2 separate regions of the Homo sapiens genome follow, and region 1 is linked to region 2. Evidence: fine-mapped expression QTL. A gene starts in region 2. The other region holds a variant in brackets. All regions are shown on one strand. Distances are between the middles of the regions.

Region 1 (5,322 bases), 190 kb after region 2:
GAACTTGCTTACTTTGCTCCTATTCTGTTTTCCCCACTTATGCTGTCCAGAGTTGCAACCTTTGTAAATCTAAACATCGACATCTCAAAATCCACTACCAACAGAGAGGGTACATGGGGCTTGATCCACTCAAGAGCAAGGAACAGTGTACTTTTTATGTAAACCATTGGAAAACTCCATACTTCATAGAAAGTATAAAATTGGATGATCTAAAGACCTCTTGTGTGGTAGGGGTTGAACAGTCATGACTGAATATAATTGACAGCTTCCTGACCTTTGTAGGACATCTTTCTTCTGGTTGAATTCTGGGAAGATGGACATCTCAGGCTTGGGTAAACCATGTGGTAAACACAGACATGCTGCACAAGTAAAGGCAGGATAACTAATCAAAAGGAAGAAATGTTACTTCATCTTCTACCACACATATATTGAATCTCTCCTGTTTAATCCAGTTAACTGGAGTTGCTGGTTTCATTCTCAACATTAAGGGGGGAGTTTGGTCATGTAGACTGAGAGAGACTACCTTTTTTACCTTCTAGTCATACAGGACCTCCTTAGACTCACCCCTTTGATGCTGGCACACTGTCAGATACCTGGAACTATAAGGGCCTTTTAAATGCTTGCATTTCTGGCTGGGCACAGTGGCTTACGCCTGTAATCCCAGCACTTTGGGAGGCCAAGGCAGGTGGATCACTTGAGGTCAGGAGTTCGGCCCAACCTGGTCAACATGGTGAGACCCTGTCTCTACTTAAAAAAAAAAAAAATTAGCCAGGAGTGACAGCACATGCCTGTAATTGCGGCTACTCAGGAGGCTGAGGCAGGAGAATAGCTTGAGCCCGGGAGGCAGCGGTTGCAGTTAGCTAAGATAACACCACTGCATTCCAGCCTGCGTGACAGAGTGGGACTTCATCTAAAAAAAAAAAAGGCTTGTATTTCTAATTCCATGAGTATAAGGTATTTTGAGGTTTATATGTATTTGCAAAAAGCAAATGACATGTCTTTTTTTTTTTGAGAAGGAGTCTTGCACTGTCGCCCAGGCTGGAGTGCAGTGGTGTGATCTCGGCTCACTGCAAGCTCTGCCTCCCGGGTTCATGCCATTCTCCTGCCTCAGCCTCCCAAGTAGCTGGGACTACAGGAGCCCACCACCATGCCCGGCTAATTTTTTATATTGTTTTAGTAGAGACAGGGTTTCACCGTGTTAACCAGGATAGTCTCGATCTCCTGACCTCGTAATCCACTTGCCTTGGCCTCCCAAAGTGCTGGGATTACAGGCATGAGCCACCGCACCCAGCCTCTTTCTTTCTTTCTTTTTTTTTTTTTTTAAGAGACAGGGTCTTGCTTTGTTGCCTGGGCTGGAATGCAGTGGTGGGATCACAGTTTACAGAAGCCTTGAATTCCTGGGCTCAAGTGATCCTGCCGCCTCAGCCTCCCAAGTAGCTGAGACTACAGGTGTATGTTGCCATGCCTAGCTTGTTTATTTATTTAAATTTTTTATTTTTAATTTTTTGACATAGTTTGAGAGATAATTTTTTGAGATTTTTTTTTTCTTCGTCGCCCAAGCTGGAGTATAGTGGCACAATCTTAGCTCACTACAGCCTTGACCTCTTGGGCTCAAGTGATCCTCCCATCTCAGCCTCCCAAGTAGGTGGGACTATAGGCTTGTGCCACCACACCCTGCTAATTTTTTTTTTTTGAGGCAGAGTCTCACTCGATCGCCCAGGCTGGAGTGCAGTGGCACGATCTTGGCTCACTGCAACCTCTGCCTCCCCGGTTCCAGTGATTCTCCTCCTCAACCTCCTGAGTAGCTGGGATTACAGGCACCCGCCACCACACCCAGCTAATTTTTTTGTATTTTTAGTAGAGACAGGGTTTCTTCATGTTGGCCAGGCTGTTCTCAAACTCCTGACCTCAAATGATCCACCTGCCTCTGCTTCCCAAAGTGCAGGGATTACAGGCGTGAGCCACTGCGCCCGGCTTTTTTTTTTTTTTTTTGAGATGGGGTCTCACTCTGTCGCCCCAGGCTGGAGTGCAGTCGTGTGACCTTGGCTCACTGCAACCTCTGCCTCCTGGGTTCAAGCAATTCTCCTGCCTCAGCCTCCCAAATAGCTGGGACTACAGGCACGTCCCACCACACCCAGGTAATTTTTGTATTTTTAGTAGAGACAGGGTTTCACCATGTTAGCCAGGATGGTCTGGATCTCCTGACCTAGTGATCCACCCGCCTCGGTCTCCCAAAGTGCTGGGATTACACATGTGAGCCACTGCTCCTGGCCTCTCCATTTAGTTTTTTTTTTTTTTTTTTTGAGCTGGGGTCTCGCTCTGTCGCCCAGGCTGGAGTGCAGTGGCGCGATCTCGGCTCACTGCAAGCTCCACCTCTTGTGTTCATGCCATTCTCCTGCCCCGGCCTCCTGAGTAGGTGGGACTACAGGCACCCACCACCACGCCTGGCTAATTTTTTGTATTTTTTAGTAGAGACGGGGTTTCACCCTGTTAGCCACGATGGTCTTGATCTCCTGACCTAGTGATCCGCCCTCCTCGGCCTCCCAAAGTGCTGGGATTACAGGCGTGAGCCACTGCGCCCGGCTTCCATTTAGTTCTAATTTGATTTCTGTCATCAGAGTTTTGTAGTTTTCCTCATATAGATATTGTATATATTTTGTCACAGTTATACCTAAGTATTTCTTTTTTGGGGGTGCAAATATAAATGGTTTTGTGTTTCTATTTATTTACTTATTTTTTTTGAGACAGTGGCATGATACAAAAATTAGCCAGGTGTGGTGGCGGGTGCTTGTAATCCCAGCTACTCAGAAGAATTGCTTGAACCTAGGAGGCAAAGGTTGCAGTGAGCCAAGATCGAGCCACGGCACTCCAGACTGGGTGA[CAA/C]GAGCAAAACTCCGTCTCAAAAAAAAAAAACAGAAATTTTCACTAATTGGATGGGAATATAGCTGCTGGAATGTCTTCGTGTACATATAATAGTCACTAGTAATCTTTGGAAAAAATTATACTGTTAACTTTCTTAATATTCACCTATTCTTTCTAATAGGTATAACTATAAGAAATGAATTTTAATGTCTGGAATATCAAAGAGATGCTCAGTATTCCTTCAGGCTCTGGGTAAGTTTTCTGGTTATATTGTCTGATCCTTAAGAGGATTTTCTGGCCGGGCATGATGGCTCACACCTGTAATCCCAGCACTTTGGGAGGCCAAGGTGGGCAGATCACAAGATCAGGAGATCAGGACCATCCTGGCTAACACGGTGAAACCCCGTCTCTACTAAAAATACAAAAAAATTTAGCCGGGCATGGTGGCGGGTGCCTATAGTCCCAGCTACTCAGGAGGCTGAGGTAGGAGAATGGCGTGAACCTGGGAGGTGGAGCTTGCAGTGAGCCGAGATTGCGCCACTGCACTCCAGCCTGGGCGACAGAGCGAGACTCCGTCTCAAAAAAAAAAAAAAAAAAAAGGATTTTCCAGTTTCATTGATTTCATAGAAAATGGGTTCCTGGTCAGGCATGGTAGCTCACGCCTATAATCCCAGCACTTTGAGAGGCCCAGGTGGGTGGATCACCTGAGGTGATCAGGAGTTCACGACTAGCTTGGCCAACGTGGCAAAACCCCATCTCCACTAAAAAAAAAAATACAAAGAGTAGCCAGGCAAGGTGGTGTGCACCTGTAATCTCAGCTACTGGGGAGGCTGAGGCAGGAGAACTGCTTGAACCTGGGAGGCGGAGCTTGTGGTGGGCTGAGATTGCGCCACTGCACTCTAGCCTGGGCAACAGAGTGAGACTCAATCTCAAAAAAAAAAAAAAAAAGAGGGTTCCCTTCCCATCAGGTTATAATAATGGAAGTGTGTCCAGAATTGGTGGGTTCTTGGTTTCACTGACTTCAAGAATGAGGCCAAAGACCCTTGCGGTGAGTGTTACAGTTCTTAAAAGCGGCATGTCCAGAGTTTGTTCCTTCTGATGTTTGGATGTGTTTGGAGTTTCTTCCTTCTGGTGGGTTTGGGGTCTTGCTGGCTCAGGAGTGAAGCTGCAGACCTTTGCGGTGAGTGTTAACAGCTCATAAAGGCAGTGCGGACCCAAAGATTGAGCAGGAGCAAGATTTATTGCAAAGAGTGAAAGAACAAATCTTCCGCAGTGTGGAAGAGGATCGGAGCTGGTTGCCACTGCTGGCTCGGGCATCCTCCTTTTATTCCCTTATCTGGCCCCACCCACATCCTGCTGATTGGTCCATTTTACAGAGAGCTGATCGGTCTGTTTTACAGAGAGCTGATTGGTCCGTTTTGACAGGGTGCTGATTGGTGTGTTCACAATCCCTGAGCTAGACACAAAAGTTCTCCAAGTCCCCACAGAGCACTGATTGGTGCATTTACAAACCTTGAGCTAGACACAGGGTGCTGATTGGCGTGTTTGCAAACCTTGAGCTAGACAGAGTGCTGATTGTTGTATTTACAATCCCTTAGCTAGACATAAAGGTTCTCCAAGTCCCCACTAGATTAGCTAGACACAGAGCACTGATTGGTGCATTTACAAACCTTGAGCTAGGCACAGAGTGCTGATTGTTGTATTTACAATTCCTTAGCTAGACATAAAGGTTCTCCAAGTCCCCACCAGATTAGCTGATACAGAGTGCTGATTGGTGCATTTACAAACCTTGAGCTAGACACAGAGTGCTGATTGGTGTATCTACAATCCTTTAGCTAGACATAAAGTTTCTCCAAGTCCCCACTAGACTCAGGAGCCCAGCTGGCTTCACCTAGTGGATCCTGCACTGGGGCCGCAGGCGGAGCTGCCTGCCAGTCCCACACCATGTGCCCACACTCCTCAGCCCTTGGGTGGTCGATGGGACCGGGCACCACGGAGCAGGGGGCAGTGCTAGTCAGGGAGGCTGGGGCCACGTAGGAGCCCATGGTGGGCCGGCACTGCTGGAGGACCCGGTGCACCCTCCACAGCTGCTGGCCCAGGTGCTAGGCCCCTCACTGCCTGGGGCCAGCGGCGCAGGCTGGCTGCTCTGAGTGCAGGGCCTGCCAAGCCCATGCCCACCTGGAACTCGAGCTGGCCCGCAAGTGCATGCGCAGCCCTGGTTTCTGCCCGTGCCTCTCCATCACACCTCCCTGCAAGCAGAGGGAGCTGGCTCTGACCTCGGCTAGCCCAGAGAGGGGCTCCCATAGTGCAGCGACAGGCTGAAGGGCTCCTCAAGCATGGCCAGAGTGGACGCCAAGGCCAAGGAAGCTCCGAGAGCAAGCGAGGGCTGCCAGCATGCTGTCACCTCTCAGAGGTACCTCATACAGACTCTTCTTCTCTTCATCTCTTCTGTATCTGCTG
Region 2 (5,296 bases):
CGGACGAACATCTGACCAAAGAGGTGTGGTCGAGGCTCCTGAAAGAGAAAGGGCCTGCTGGTCTCATCCTCTGCTTCCTTTGCCTTTACCCTATACCTCTCTGCACGTCCCACCCCATTTTGCTGTGTGCTCACCCCCAGGATGTGTACCCGGTTGTAGTAGGAGCTGAAATCCATGCTGAGCTGTACCAGGAACTTGCATATCTAGAGACAGAGACTGAGTCACTGGCCCATCTCTTTGCTCTTGTGCCCCAGGCCAGAATAAAGAATAGAGTGTAGAGTGTCCTGGTTGTCTATGCCTCACCATCTCTGTGCGTACAGCAATGTGGAGCCCCGGGGCTGTGCAGTCCAGCACTGCTGTCCGGCTCAGCAGATCCGGAAAGGGGAGGATACTGTTGAAGAGCAACAACCACTCACCCTGTTGGGGAGAAAGGTGCTGGGAGGGGAAGTCCAGGCCTCCTTGTGCCAGCTACCAGGAGGGACACTCACCTCATCATGTAGCAGTGAGAAGTCCAGACTGCTCACAGGAGGAAAAGTGGGGTACAGACCTTGTTCCATACTACACTTGTAACTCTCAAAGAGTGTGGCAAGACGGGCACAATTATACATGACAAAGGTGCCACTCTTTGTGCCCTTCGTGGAGATACTGCTGTCAGCCAGAGCCAGGAAGAGCTGGGGAATAGAAGCACAGCTGCAGAGAGAGAAGGCAGCCACCACACCCTGTGCCCCAACACTGGCCCTGTCAGGCTCCCAGGCTCACCTGACTCTGTGGGGCTGTGCTCAGCATCTCAAACTTGATGGTGGCCACAGAGAGAACACCAAAGATCTCTGTCCAGGCTGGGTCTGAGGGAGTATAGGGTTGGTCAGTCAGTCTGCAGGCAAGGGCAGGGATGCAAAAAACCTGCCCCTAACCCAGAACATAGCCAGGGTTTCCCAGGCACACCTTGTGCCAGATCCCCACCATGCTTCAGTGCTGAGGCCTTGCACACCTGGGTATGCCGGAACCTGTGTTTGGAAGAGAGGAAGGCCAGTGGGCAGGGTCCTGGGTAAAGAGTCCCCCCTCATTACCCTGGCTTAGGTTGGTGTTCCTCCCAGCCTCACTCACTCGTAGTACTCAGGGGCAGTCATCAGAGTGCCAGGTGCACCAGCTACTTTCACAGGGCCACAGATGAGGTGCTTCTGTCAGAAAGATGTCAGGGGCTCAGCCTAGTTGGCGCTACTCTCCAGGAAGTCCCTTGAGGAGCCCAAATCTGGTGCCTCTACTCAGCCCAGACTCCCTCAAATTGGAACTGCCAGGTTGAGTGCCTCCGTCTACCCAGCCACTCAGGCTACGCATGGTTCATCCTTCTCAACCTGGTCTTCAGTGTTCTTGGGATGTGTCTACAGACCCCCCTTCCCCAGAGCCTCTGCACCTGCTGTACATGCCCTCTCAAGTCCAGCAACTCCCCCAAGGTCAAGTGTTGGTTTCTGTCAGCTAACAAGCCCCTCGGTGGGTTTTCAAGGGCCCTCTGAGGTTGGGGGTTAGGTGGTGGGGAGCTCCACCATCATTATTAACCTACCTGTCTGAGTGGAGCCTTGTCAACCAACTTCTGCCAAAGCAGGTCCAACTTCTGTTGCTGGAACTCCTCCTCACAGCTAACAACATGTACAACCAGGCAGCCGCCTGTACCAGTATCTGAGGCCCCAGCCTAAGGGAGGACAATCATAACTGTGGAAGTACAGTATACTTGGTTTGGGAGAACCTACAGGGCTGGGAGTCACTAACCAGGCCTGGGTGGCTGTCCTCGGGCCAATGCCATAGAGCCTCTTGCAGCTCAGCCAGCACAGAGAGGAGATCCTCAGTCACTGAAAAGAGAACAGACAGGTGCTGAGACTGACAAGAAGCAGAGATGTGCCCCTAACCCCCTCCTGCCTTTTCTGGCCCTGCTAGGCTTCAGGTCCTACCCAGACAGTTGTCCAGGTTGGGGTCATAGCCAGCTGTGCGGCCCTGTTCTTCCACCAGCTCCTTCAGACACAGTCTGCCTAGGATGCCAGGGGACAGTGTCCTCCCGTCATTAGCAGAGGTAAGTTCTTCAAGGGCGTGGCTCCTCAGGGTGTGGGAGGAAGCTCTCTCCGAGGCAGCGGGCCAGTCCACCCGCAGTTGCTGCAGGAAGGTCAGCATGTGCGGATCCCGCACAGCTGGCACTAGGCGCACGCACACCCTGCGAAGGGAGGGCGGCCGCCTCAGTCTGAGCACCTGGTCCAGCTCGCCACGACTTCCCACCTCCAGCCGCAGTCCCCACGGGCGGCGCCGCTCGCTTTCTAGGTACCCGGCAGTCCCACTTTCTCCATTCCGGCCCCGCGGCCCCGCTCACCCGTGAGCGCGCAGGGCTCGCGCCAGGTGATCGGCCACGAGCACCGTACGCAGCTGGCTCAAGCGGAGTGCGCAGGGGGAGCTGCGCAGTGCTGGGCAGTGTAGTAAGACGCGCTGGCCCAGCGAGGCAGGCGAGGCGGGCGTGGCATAGGCGGCCACGGCGCTGAGGACGCGCTCGAAGACGGCGGACCGCTGCAGTTGGAGAGACAGACCCGCGGGGGTCGGCGCGCAGCGCAGCACCGGGGCCACACCGGGGCCCTGCAGGCAGGCGAGGGCATGGAGCAAATGCTCCGGAACCTGCGGGAGAACGGGCGTGTAAAAGAGCCACGGCACGGGGCCCATCTCCCGGCCGCACGGCCCCGCCCGGCTCACGCCCACCTGGCCGTCATCGAAGCGCGCCTGCAGCGCGCGGTGCGGTGCCAGAAAGTCTCGGGAACGCAGGTGGCGGGTGCGCGTCTCCTTGATCCACACCGGACCGCCTGGCCCCAGGGCCGCGTTGAGGGCCCCCAGCGTCTCCCCGACCCCAAGGCGCCTGGTCGCCATGGTGACCGGAAGGAGTAAGCGGAACCGGAAAAAAATTTAGGGAGGTGGAACTTCCGGAAAGGACCGACTAGCTGGGGCGGGGATGCGGCGGTGGTCCCCGTAAGTGGACAGGTGCGCCAGTGGTAGCCCTGTCGGCTGCTTTCGACCTACCGCCCCCAGCGCCCCTTCCGCGTGGTCCACCTGCACAGCCGGGCCCCGGATCTGAAATCTCGGGGCCCTCCCTGGGCCTAGGGTTCTTTCGCTGTGACCCAGGCCTTAACCAGGAAAAGGATCCTCGCGACCCGGTGGGCGCTTAGACCGGGTACCGTCTCTTCTCATCGAAGTCTCACATGTTTGTTTTAATAACATTTCATTTCTCCCATTTTACACATGATGAATATTCGTCACTGGAATAAGGCAGTATAACATTAAGGCCACTTTCACGACCTACTTAAAATATCTCGTTTTAAAAAGAATAGTGTTCCGCGGTTTCAGGTTATTTGCAAGCATTTTCTCGTTTGAGATATGGGTGTTTTTTTGTTTGTTTGAGACGGAGTCTTGCTCTTGTCTCCCAGGCTGGAGTGCAGTGGCACGATCTCGGCTCACTGCAGCCTCCACCTCCCGGATTCACAGGATTCTCCTCCTCAGCCTCCCGAGTAGCTGGGATTACGGGCGCCCGCCACCACGCCCGGCTAATTTTTGTATTTTTAGTAGAGACGGGGTTTCGCCATGTTGGCCAGGCTGGTCTCGAACTCCTGACCTCGTGACCTGCCCGCCTCGGCCTCCGAAAGTGCTGGGATTACAGGCATCAGCCACTGCACCCAGCCCGGGTGGTCTTTATGCCCAATAAATAAGCACTCTGATACAGTTGGCGGTTTTCTTCTCTTGATACCTGAGAAATCACAACCATCATGATGGCTTCCAGAATTACCAGACTTTTTTTTTTTTTTTTTGAGACGGAGTTTCGCTCCTGTTGCCCAGGCTGGAGTACAGTGGTGTGATCTTGGCTCACCGCAACCTCCCCCTCCCGGGTTCAAGTGATTATCCTGCCTCAGTCTCCCAAGTAGCTGGGATTACAGGCACGCGCCACCACGCCCGGCTACTTTTGTATTTTTAATAGAGACGGGGTTTCTCCATGTTTGTCAAGCCTCGAACTCCCGACCTCAGGTGATCCGCCTGCCTCGGCCTCCCAAAGTGCTGGGATTACAGGCGTGAGCCACCGCGCCCGGCTCAGAATGACCAGCTTTTAATGTGACTCCTTTAACCTGGTGTGCTTTAACAACGATCCTTAAAGCTTCCTGTTTTAGGCAACAGCCATTTACGGGCCAACCAAATAATGCGACCATAATAGAAAATAGGCCTCAGTTGGAGTATCTTGCTCCTCTACCAATAGGAAAGGTCTTTTTCTTTCTCCCACAAAGGTTCCCAAATGTCTTCATTTCACTGTAACTTACTCACCCCCCACCCCACCCCCATTCCTTTTAATAGAGAAGCTAACTCAGTAGAGAGAGTTGGGAAATCCGGAGAGCAGGGAAACCCAGGGGCAGGAAAAGCTTGGCAAGGCCCCTTTCTGGGCCAGGGCTGAGGCCCTGCTGGGAGGCGCCGAAAGAGCACTGGGCGGACACGACATTCCCGATGGCTTCTCGGGTGCCCACTCAACGGGAGTGATCGTGTCATTCCAAAGCGCTTTCCATTCTGAAGGTGCATGACCTGGAGACAACTGCTTAGCAGGGTTGGGAACCCTCAGTCAAACTGAGGACTTCAGATACTCTCATCCACGAAGACGGTTGGGGTGGTTTTTCCCCAGGAAGTAAGAGGGCTATCTTTAGCGAGATGCGGGCTGAGGCAGCCCTGGGGGAGTCACTACCATTGCAGCCCTACCCAGAGGTCCTGGGTCCACCCTCCCTCGCCAATCCTCCCCAGGGTTCCAGAGATGGCCACCAGCCTCGGCTCTCCCACGTCTACACCCATCACCTCCAGCCTGAGGGCGCAACTGAGAGGAACTGAGACCCAAGCAGCTCAGTAAAGTATGTCTGGGGGTCAGGGGCACCCCATCTGGGCCAGGGCGCTGCTCAGGCAGGAGAGCAGGGGACGAAATCCAAGCGCAGCTGGAATGCTCTGGAGACAACAGCTGCTTTTGGGATTCCGTTGCCCGCTGTCCAGCCGTTGGCGGGGGGCGGGGGAGCTCCTGCCCCCAGGTCACTCGCCCTGGGGCCACATCAGAACCCGCCCATCCCCAGTCCCAGGAGGAAGACCCGGGAGTAGGTTGTGAAACGGAGTCTAGAGGGAACAAGACGCTCACCTGGGCCACAGAACAATAGAAGGGGAGGTGGGGGCCTCCCCTGGGACCGGGTCCCGATCCGGATTAGATCCGTGGGGCAGGATTAGCCCTGTTGGTCCCACGAAGCCTGGGCCACTGGTG

Evidence for each region.
Region 1: its variant is fine-mapped to the expression of DALRD3 in whole blood (TOPMed, PIP above 0.99).

Annotation. Positions count from the first base shown.
Region 1 is chr3:49,208,723-49,214,044 of GRCh38, forward strand. IHO1 (interactor of HORMAD1 1) reads left to right here. Exons shown (of 8, transcript NM_001135197.2): 2 at 3,044-3,114. The coding sequence starts at 3,059. Among named protein-coding and RNA genes, the nearest start is that of IHO1, 12 kb to the left of the region's middle. The variant CAA/C (reference allele first, on the strand shown) is at 2,882.
Region 2 is chr3:49,015,670-49,020,965 of GRCh38, forward strand. It overlaps DALRD3 (DALR anticodon binding domain containing 3), which reads right to left and starts at 2,911. Exons shown (of 12, transcript NM_001009996.3): 1 at 2,731-2,911; 2 at 2,354-2,649; 3 at 1,944-2,200; 4 at 1,765-1,844; 5 at 1,559-1,687; 6 at 1,105-1,178; 7 at 943-1,004; 8 at 760-842; 9 at 489-671; 10 at 304-417; 11 at 135-203; 12 at 1-38. The coding sequence starts at 2,895. WDR6 (WD repeat domain 6) reads left to right here. Exons shown (of 6, transcript NM_018031.6): 6 at 1-282. It overlaps MIR425 (microRNA 425), which reads right to left and starts at 4,565; the gene lies at 4,479-4,565. MIR191 (microRNA 191) reads right to left here and starts at 5,040; the gene lies at 4,949-5,040. It also overlaps a transcript of NDUFAF3 not described here. RefSeq lists enhancers at 1,332-1,401, 1,687-2,458 and a silencer at 1,907-2,141.